Linked DNA regions of Homo sapiens: region 2 is linked to region 1. Evidence: fine-mapped expression QTL. A gene starts in region 1. The other region holds a variant in brackets. All regions are shown on one strand. Distances are between the middles of the regions.

Region 1 (5,385 bases):
AGAACTAGGTTATTTTTAGACAGATCATCCAGATTAATATGCTGATTCCAACTGATTCTTCTTTTAAGAACAGAAGGTGAGGCCAGGTGCGGTGGCTCACTCCTGTAATCCCAGCACTTTGGGAGGCCAAGGTGGGCGAATCACCTGAAATCAGGAGTTTGAAACCAGCCGGACCAACATGGTGAAACCCCATCTCTACTAAAAATACAAAAATTAGCCAGGCGTTGTGGTGCATGCCTGTAGTCCCAGCTACTTGGGAGGCTGAGGCAGGAGAATTACTTTAACCTGGGAGGTGGAGGTTGCAGTGAGCCAAGATCATGCCACTGCACTCCAGCCTGGGTGACAGAGTGAGACTCTCTCAAAAAAGAAAAAAAAAATAATAGAATGTATCACATTACCTGACACATTATCTGAACCTCTTCTTAACCTTCCAAACTTATTTTTCCCTGAAATCATGAAACAAATTTTCCTTTGGCATTCAAAAATTTCTTATAAACACAAGGTTGTAAAGTACATATATTTTAGGATGGTATGTAGATGTAAGTGGAGATGGGTCATACACCTTTGGATTAACTCGAAAATAAAAAGACAAAAGCAAGAGTGTTTAAATTAGAATATAAAAGTGAAAGTAGAAAAGAACAGTGGAAATTCAACAAAAGTGGAAGGAAAGCAAAGTAATCAAGCAGCAGTTTCAGAAAAGCAATCTGTCATGCTGAGTTTGGGCAGTTTCATGGGAAGCCTTTGCCAACCCAACAAGAAAGGAGGAAACTAACATTTGAATAGCTATCATGTCCAAAATGTTTCATCAGATGCTTTCATTCAGACCACTTAACACAGAATAATTGTTATTTCCAATCTGAAGATACAGAACCCCCAAATCAGAAAGAATATTTAGCTCACTCCAAGTTCATTTGAGCTGAACTTTATCTGAAGCCAAAGTCCATTCTCTTTCCATTACCAAGCTGCCTTGCAGTAAATAACAGGCTATTTCAACAAAGGTCTATTTCATCGCTGAAGGGAAAAATTACCAAATGGCCACTGAAAGAACTCAAGGATTTAAATGAAGAACTTATCAACCAGGAGTTCTGGTATGAAACTGTACTATAAAAATGAATTCATGTTGCTAAAGAACTTAAGTGGTTAGTACCCTGTAATCCCCTTGCCGATTTTGAAAATTAATCATTTCTGTCCACTTTCCTCCTTCTTCACAATTTCTCTCTCCAGACCATGTGGAGCTCATCTCATCTCAGTTTTTGCATATGTTACTCTTTCTGCTTGAAACACTTTTCCTCTCCAGATGGCATCAAGGGTGCTCCTGCTCAACACCAAAGATTTACTTTACTTTAATGTCACCGCTACAAAGTCACCTGTTCCTGCAACTACCCCTATTAAGATAGCATTCCTATTCTCAGAGAGCACTTAACACTGTATGAAATTGTTCTATTTGTTTAGGGTTTTTTGCCTTTTCCAAAAAGAATATAAATTCCTTGAAAGGATCTTGTCTACCCTGTTTCTCCAGCACTTAAATTATTCTTGGACAGAGTAGGCCCTCTTCAAGTATTTATTGAGTACATGGATTGCAAGTGGTACAAAGTGAGACTAAAATGTATCACTGGTAGAAAAAACTTGTGAGAAGCTACCAAAGAAGCCAGAGAAAGACTGCGTAGGAGTTACAGTGCCTACCACCTCTAAAGCAAAAGGAAACAAAATAATAATATGCAAACACTTAAATAGTGCTTATTCCATGCCAGGCACTGTTCTAAACATTTTATGTATATATTAACTCATTTTTATTCCTCAGAATAAATAGGTTTCTCACTTCCCCTGCTTTGTTTTTGTTTTTGTTTTTTTTTTGCCGGTGAGTAATGTGAAGCACACAGGTTAACTTGCCCAGGGTTATAGTAGTTAATGATAGCCTTAAAATTTGAACCCTGGCAGTGAACACTTTTTAAAACTACTATTTGATACTGCCTCTCCAAAAAAGCTGAGTGGTTGGCAGCATGGCCCCGCTAAGGCTTCTCTGTGACCGTAAAAAAAAGTCTATCGACTTAAAATAACTGGAGAGGGGATAAGAAATAAACGGTGCATTTACTTTCAGTCCACAGTAGTAGTAACATCGTTAGTTACTACGTGCGAACATTCTCCATTCTCATCAACTTCTCAGATCCCACAAGATTTCACCTTTGGCCACAAAAACATCCCATTTCACCAATTTATCTTTCTCCCCCAACCCTTATGCCGCCTCATTCCAGTGTTTGTTCATTTAATCTGCTCCAAATCCTGCATCTGCGGCTTTCCAGGGACCAATGTCAACTCATCTGTGAAATTGCAGAAGTACATGTCTAGTCTCCACCCCGTGAGAGGACTGAGCAAAGGGTGAAGTGTGCGAGCGGTCTACTGATAATAATTTCTATCACTCTCATGGTTATTTTAAGTATCCTTTTCTCCTCTGCACTTTATGAGAAAAGAAACGGAACTTCACGTTCAGAAACGGCCTCCCAAAGCCGCAATGGCTTCTCGCAGCTCGCTGGCCTTCCCCAATCACGCTTTGAGTCTGCGCAGTAGCTGCAGCCCAAGCCATTTCCCATTTTTCCGCCGCCGCGCCTTGATGACGTAATTTTCCTGCGCCTCGGGGCGAGCAGCGGCGCGCAAGGAAAGATCGGGTTCCGTTTTTCCCGCGGATTCTGGTGCCTGTGGGGCCGGTGACCCAACACCATGAAGGAAACGCCACTCTCAAACTGCGAACGCCGCTTCCTACTCCGTGCCATCGAAGAGAAGAAGGTATGGTTTGGTGCCCGCAGAATTGCGCGCTGCGTGGGCGCTCGGGTCTCAAGGTGTGGACTGATACCTGGCCCGCCTGGGCCCGGGGAGCTACTAGGGGAACGACCGGCACGTTCACCCCATCCCTCAGGCTTTATTTATTTTTTTTCGACAGGTTCTTTTCAAGGCTCCAGTCACCGCAGCAGTTGTCCATGCTGTAGTTTCCACTTTCCTGTATGGGCGGGCTGGTTAGGATTCCACTTTCCCCCAAGTGCTTAGCCCAGGGCCAGACAAAAAGTAGTTGCTTAAGAAATACTTGTTGAAGGAATAAATTAATGAATGAATTTGTGCTTACAGCGGCTGGATGGCAGACAAACCTATGATTATAGGAACATCAGGATCTCATTTGGAACAGATTACGGATGCTGCATTGTGGAACTTGGAAAAACAAGGTAACAGGATTTAAATGAGATACACATTCGGAAGGGAGAAGTTTGAAAAAAGACCTTATTGACTTGGTTGTTTATAAAGCAGCTAAGAAGTCTGGACAGTATTCTTTGTTTAGCTGACAAAAATAAGTATTTTTTTATGCGAGATTTTTTGCTTTTGTGGTCACACTTGAACTTTTTAATCATAAACGTATTTTCTGTCACGTATCACATAGTTCTTTTCTGACTTCTATAAATCGTATAGACAACTAGTAGTGATCATATGGAATTTGTTTCTCACACTAATATAGAGATCTTGAGCATCTTGTCATTAAGTGTACATCCTGCTTTCTTTTTCCTGAGTGACATGAAAATTAGGTTTTCAGATATTCATTTGAAAGTTGTGAGGCTATTTGGTCACATAATGGTGGTGAACTATGCCATGTGAAAACCTTTAAGAAATCTCAGGTTTTCATGCCATCTTGTATCAATAAATACTTGCTTTAGAGGTAAAGGTCACTGATTTTTAAAACAATCTGTGGAATAGTAAACATTGTAATAAGAAGAGAGGTGTTTTTTCTGTCGTGTTTTTAGTTGTACCAATTTATGTTTTATTTCTGTGTATATTATACTTTACATATAATTTTTATCTCCTATGATTTATTTGGCTGAGTATGATATTACTCACATTAAGATTGAAACTTGTTATCTGTTTCAGTTTTTTGTTTTGGAAGGAGAGTCTATTTGGTTAATACTTTGTAACTTTATCTTTGCAGAGTTCTTGGACAGGTTTCCTGTGAACTTGTGTCTCCAAAACTCAATCGGGCAACAGAAGGTATTCTTTTTTTTAACCTTGAACTCTCTCAGATGGCCGCTCCAGCTTTCGAACCTGGCAGGTATTTAAATCTTTTTCTTAAGTTGCTTTAGTCATAGGAGAACCTAACAGCAGTGAGCTTTTGTTTTAATACCTGGTGTTATATTTCATGACATTAGCCCATTCCTATTTTCTCCTTATAGGCAGTCAGATCTCTTGGTGAAGTTGAATCGACTCATGGAAAGATGTCTAAGAAATTCGAAGTGTATAGACACTGAGTCTCTCTGTGTTGTTGCTGGTGAAAAGGTGGGGAATATGCCCATAATTCTTAATCTTAGGATGAATACTGTTGATCATGGATCCCGGTATCTATCCTTTTATTCTCAGAACTTTAGTTAACTCAGTATTGTACTGGTTTGCTTCACTTCAGATGTTCTTGAGTGATACCCTTAGAACTTTGTGCTACCTCTCTCTCTCTGAAGGGACAAAAAGGGTGTCCCTTCAGAGGACACCCTTTTTCTTAAAGGTTTCTAAAAGGTTTTCACCCTTTATCTTAAAAGGGTGAAAATAGCAACTTAGATTTTTGTGTAAAAATATTTTATTCAAAGAACTTGTGGCTTTTTCATATAATCTCTCATTTTCTACATGAGTTCATAGAAGCAGGTAGTTTTCCTTTTTCATGCAGAACTCAAGAACAGATGAAATCCTTCATTTGGATAGGTTTATCGATTTACACAGGGCCACACCATGTCAGTGGCAGGGATAACTTTGAAAATCTTAGTCCCAATAAATTGTGCTGCATTAGGATATTAGAATTTTATTTTATTTTATTTTGTTTTATTTTTTTGAGATAGAGTCTCACTCTGTTGCCCAGGCTGGAGTGCAGTGGTGCAATCTCAGCTCACTGCAACCTCTGCCTCCCCTGTTCAAGCGATTCTCCCACTCAGCTTTCCGAGCAGCTGGAACTACCGGCGCCTGCCACCACGCCCGGCTAATTTTTGTATTTTTAGTAGAGATGGGGTTTCACCAGCAGGCTAGTCTTGAACTCCAGACCTCAAGTGATTCACCTGCCTTGGCCTCCCAAAGTGCTGGGATTACAGGCGTGAGCTACTGTGCCTGGCCAGAATTTGATTCTTGATTAGGGTATTTTGACAAGCATTTTCATCCCAGAGAAGTCATTTAGCTTCCCATATTCCATACCTAAGCATAATACTTCCTATTTGCATTACTTGTAAGGTTATTAAAAATATCACAAAACCTAAAAGTTTAATTTTTTTTAATTTTTGAAAACTTTCATTATTTTCTCTGAGGGACAGGGTGACACTCTCGTCCAGGCCGGAGTACAGTGGTGTCATTATAGCTCACTGTAATCTTAAACTCCTG
Region 2 (5,385 bases), 110 kb after region 1:
AAGACTCACATTGGATAAAACAAATACAAAAATGACTTCGGATTAATCAGAAATAAACAACCTGGTTCCAATCTCCATTTCTTAGCAGAGAACACAATAAATTCTTTTCCTCACATTACTTCAAATTCTTATTTTAACACAGCTATTCAAAATGGGTTATTGTAAGACGAAATAGGTTGGTGCAAAAGTAATTGCAGTTTTTGCCATTTTAAAAATAGTAAAAACCACAGTTATTTTTGTACCCAACCTAATAACAAACATTCTGAAAATGAAAACTCTCCTAAAATCTCTGGAACTAAAACAACAAAGAAAGTATTTGTCATCAGTTGATAGCCATTGGGTTATTTCATAAGTATTTCAATTAAATAATCACAGTGAGTTACATTTTAAAACTTACATCTTGTTCAATAATTGAAGTTAGATTTCTGAAACATAGTATATTTGTAATTAGGGTCACGTTACTCATAAAAAATTTTATGTAGTGTTAAGGGACACCTTTTGGCATTATCTAGCTAGAAAATTATTTGGTTATTTTGCTATTTAGCTTATCTTGCAACAGTGATGTTGTCACCATATAAGATATAATAACATTTTTTTTCAATAGAAAATGACAATTATTTCTATAATTACCTTTTGGTAGAAATTAGGATATTTAAAATAAAAGACTTACCAAGAACCCAGACCATAATTAGCATTTCAGTCCATGTAAACTGGGTGGTTTTCACCCTGAAGATCTGTTTGGGATAGTCAGTAACTGTGATATTGGGCAGCGTGGTGATGCCTTCGAACCTGTCTGAGGCATTGAACACAAGCAGACCCAGGAAGATGATGAAAGAAGCTGCATGTGCTACAAACTTCATAAAAGGGCTTCGCAGAATTTTCCCCAGCTGTAACAAACCAAAGAGGAAAAGTTTGCTTCAGAAAATCTGGCTTTCACTTGTGGAGATTACAACATAGGATTAAAAAAAATAGATGAAAGGAGAACACTCAAAATTCTGCTTCTGTTTCCAAAAAGCTTTATATTATGAAAAATATTCTTTTTTAGGGGAATGCTTCCTCCAAAAATAATTTAATAAGTATTCAAAATTCATTGTTTCTAAATGTCCAATTTGTCTTAGGGTAGACTGCATTCACAGATGCACTTCTGGAAATCACAGGGCCTATACTGGTTCTTGCTCTTATTTTTACACAAAAGAATATGCAAAGTCTGGATTTTAGGGTCTGGAAAAAGAAATTTCAACTTTGTATTGTGTAATTCTTCATTGCTTTGTAATTGTAATTGAGATGTTATGAGGATCTTATAGACTCATATAAGACCTTAAAAACCCTTTGAAGATTAAAAAAATTACTACTACAGAAGTAAATTTTAGTTCTCATTTCTAAATATTCCAAAATCAAGTTATACCTGGTATGCTATAAAAAAGGCAGAAAATATTAGAACCAAGATGAATATTGTATCTGTTACTGCCCCTAATAAGGAGATACACAATAATTAAAACCTCTAAGTAGGTTAACTTATTTGAAAGTGATCTCCCAGTTGGATAATCATGTAAATGGTACAAAGGGACTTCCAAAGTTCAGTATATAATTATTTTAAGGTGACTCCTTTAAAATCCCCTATGATATAATGTCCTTAAAAGTCCCACGTTCCCGTGAAAATGAAAAACCATTCCTCCTGTCCCAAGGGCCCCCACAGTCCAAGAATTAGGTACATTTGGTAGATTTATCAAGTATGTTCTCTTTTCTACACTCTCAGACCCTGCTTTTTAACTCTGTCTGTGACCTTATAAAGTACTGAGGTTCACATTTAAGGGACTGTTAACTCCAAACAAATGTTTTTGTAGGTCTAGAACCTTAATGGGATGTCAATAAATGATGAAAGAGATGTCAGGGATTTTTGGGATTGAACATGAATGCACACAGACGAATGTCACATTTTCCATGTTAGACACAGAAGAATAAACAACACATTTACACATCACCTTGTTGTTACACAGCTGCAAAAAGGGCACGTTTGGGGGTAGCTTATCCGTAGCACATAGAAATTTCTTGGGAATTACCAAGTCTGTTTCTCCTAAAGGTCAATCTTTTAAAACTTTAAATAACATGAAAAGAAAGCAGAATGCCAATCTCAAAAATGGGACATACATGGAAAATTCTTGCTATGTTGCCTTTTTCCATAAGATAGGTGGTATACGGCAGCTCTAAACATGGGCTCTGGGAATGGCTCAACTTCCATGTTTCCCTTCTCTGCAGAGCATGCCACACTGTTAGTTGTACTTGTAAAAGTGCAGGGAAAAAAGAAGTGGACTCCAAGATGGCTACTTCAAACCTGATGGAATGTTTTAACTGATTAAGTTCCCCTAAGAGACAAACATTTCTAAACCTGAACTTTCCAACTCATTTCCTTCAGAAAAGAAAATTATTTGGGTAGGATATGATTTTTTTTATTGCATGCTCTCTCATATTATTTATAGTTTTTCATCTTTAGTGTTTACGTATTTGAAGAATCTTAAAGTAATTTTCCATGATAC[A/G]TAACAAAAGAACTTGGCTGAGTCATCAAACATGATCAAAATGACAAACTTTCTGCCTTAATTTGCATGGGCAACTCAATGATGAAATGAGATGGATGAATATTCTCACACATATATGGTGTTTGCAGAGCAGAACTCTGCCGGTGGAGACTGCTGAGCCAGAGAGATGATAGATTTCCAGGATCACTTGTAAGTGCCCTTGACTCATTTTGCCTTGAAACTACCTCTGACTTAAACAAAACCAAATTTCAGAATATAAAAACAGGATTAAAGGATCTCAGCACAGCTCCTTCTCTCTGGCAGTGCCTGTAATAACTGGCATGAATAGTATTCCTTTCCACATCTTGCTAGGGGATCTCTTGGGCACAACTAAATTGATTTTACATTGGAAAGTTGAGAGGAGAATAAAGGTACTAACCAAAATGATCCAAGCAAAACCAAATAAACAATCTAAAAAAATCTAAAACCCCTGAACCTAAATCCTACATTTTTAAGAACTGTCTGAATTAACAAAGGGCTAGGGGAACCTGACATGCATTTTCTTGAAGACTTTGGATACCACTGCTGTTCTCAACTGTGCTTCGCACACTTAACCTTGGATTTCTTCTGACAGGTCCAAATGGGTTGCCCTTCTAGTTCCCAGCGTAACTGTTTCTTGGTACTACTGCAGCAGTGCTCTCCATTCCCCGGTCTGTTCACAGGCCAGCCCAGTCGACACTCTACTTATTAAGCCGTCAATAAAATCAGTACAAGGGCTACTTCACTCAAGCAGCTTTTCCTTCTCTGTCTACCATGAGGATTTTATCTTAAAAGCCTAAGTACTTTATGCCTGCAAATGTGGTATATCCCACTGGTACCAAATCCTTTTTCATCCCTTATTTGAATTGATCCAGTAATTAAAAAGGAGAATCTGTGTTCTTGAATCAATTAACATTCAGGGTAAAACTGATAAGATTCTTAAGCATGAAGCTTTTTATTTTTTTATCCCAAAGAGACACAGTACACCACCACAGAGGAAATAGATGTAGAAAGCAAGTACCCTGCTGCAAGGTGCGATCCAGTAGCCAATGGCCAGGAATGGAAGGCCCAGGGCCACGACCAGCACAACGAGACACTTGATAGCTATGGTCTGCTCCCTTAGGCCTGAGAGGTTCTCATACCAGATCGTCAAGAGCTGCTGCTGGCAGTTGGGATGAGCCACAAACTATTGGGAGAGAGAGAGTTTGAGAAGGGGAGAGAAAGGTAAGTTACCATACCATTGTCAATAGCTCAACTATTAAATACACATGCATCCTAAAGATATTAAAGCATATTTTTTCTAGCATATTGGTACTGGAAGGTTCTGGTAATATTCTTCTTAGCTTTCCCTCCATTTTTCAAAATTGTTTCAGAACTAATAGAAGAATTAGAATGGAAATGAGAAGGTAAAATTGGTGGTGTCCTTAATCACAGTTCTTTTTGATAGAAACCCTCCATGATTCACAGATTTCTCTGTGGAATCTGGGTGACATCTGGCTTCTTTTGTAAAAATGTGTCCCATCTTGCTGTTGGCCAGCTTACTTGCATTCAGTTCAAAATGGAAAAGAAGAAAAGTTACTTGGTTTATTGTAGGCTATAGCTAAAAGAGAAATGTGTGAAGTTTCGCGAGCAACCCCTAAAATGCTACATACAAAAAAATGCATAATGCACCCTTTGTGTAATTATGTACTATTACTGCAAATCTGTAAAAGGCCTGAAAAATAATCAATTGAACTTGCAAGTATTATGCTGGGTCTACACATGCACTTCTTCCAGGAACTGGCACCAAATGCCACTTCCCTCCCGTCCTCTTTTTTATTGCTTCCTGTATCAAAAGGTCAAAAGAACATGACTATTTATCTTCAGCAGTTCTTTAATAAATACAATTCTAATCAGGAAAAATGAGCAAATTATACTTATTTCAGCCCAGCCATTTGATTTTTTTTTTCCCGTTTGATTTTGTTAAGTTATCTGCCTGCATCATTTAGAAGGACTGGGATTTCTTTAAAGCCCTGTTCTTATTCAAGAAGCAGAATGCATTTGTACTCAGGCCCTTGTAAAGGTCCCTATGCCAAAATCTGCCCATTTGTAGCTAGACACACCTTTTTTTGAATGGTCATATGCTCTTTGTCCAAGCTCAGGAATTCAAAAATCAACTATGAGTGACAACATATTTTTTAAAGGAGTTCTTAGCAACACAAAAATCAAGGTGTCACTGTCTTCTAAAAAACAGAATAAGCAATAACAATGAACCTGTTAAGAAACACCCATGAAATGTTTTTGGGAACTGAGAAACAGAGTAGCTGCAGTTCCTACTTGTCAAAAGGTTCCTCTTTGATCAAGTTCTAGTTAATAATCCTGATGATTCTTAGTAACTCCAGGCAATTCCTAGAGTTATTAATATTTGGCTCTTTATCAAAGCCCACCTACAAGGAAATGCACAGGTTTCCACTGACTGGTGCATAGTTTCCCATCAACAATTTTAATTAAAAAAGAAAGTCTCATCTCCCAGGACAGGCGATGTAGGTTCAATTTCCCCCAAATCCCTGCCTTTGCCCCCAGAGTGCACCCAGTGTAAAGTCCACTGATGGCTGCACTGGCAGCTGCCTCCGCATCACCATACATGCGTACTTAACGACCCACAGACAGAGGTGGTGAGAATAAATTTATGAATATTAGATTTGAAATAATTAACTGAGTTATTATGTTGAGATTCTAAGCCTCAATGTGATGGGTATTAGAAAGCTAGGCTTTTGGGAGGTAATTAGATCATGAGGGAGGAGCCTTCATGAATGAGACTGGAGCCCTGATAGGAAGAGGCAGGAGAGCTCGC

Alleles and levels. Alleles are on the strand shown, and positions count from the first base shown. SD is a standard deviation of normalised expression in the study named.
In carriers of allele G in region 2, the expression in tibial nerve of the gene that starts at base 2,614 in region 1 tends to be lower than with A alone (large effect, 0.85 SD a copy in GTEx).

What was found. PIP is the estimated chance that this variant, and not a neighbour inherited with it, causes the effect.
Region 2: its variant is the best candidate, but not a certain one, in a credible set for the expression of EXOSC9 in tibial nerve (GTEx, PIP 0.51).

Annotation. Positions count from the first base shown.
Region 1 is chr4:121,798,710-121,804,094 of GRCh38, forward strand. It overlaps EXOSC9 (exosome component 9), which reads left to right and starts at 2,614. Exons shown (of 12, transcript NM_005033.3): 1 at 2,614-2,781; 2 at 3,118-3,212; 3 at 3,965-4,084; 4 at 4,206-4,308. The coding sequence starts at 2,716. RefSeq lists enhancers at 1,803-2,606, 2,415-2,684.
Region 2 is chr4:121,911,207-121,916,591 of GRCh38, forward strand. TRPC3 (transient receptor potential cation channel subfamily C member 3) reads right to left here. Exons shown (of 12, transcript NM_001130698.2): 4 at 3,574-3,738; 5 at 671-887. Among named protein-coding and RNA genes, the nearest start is that of TRPC3, 38 kb to the right of the region's middle. The variant A/G (reference allele first, on the strand shown) is at 2,535.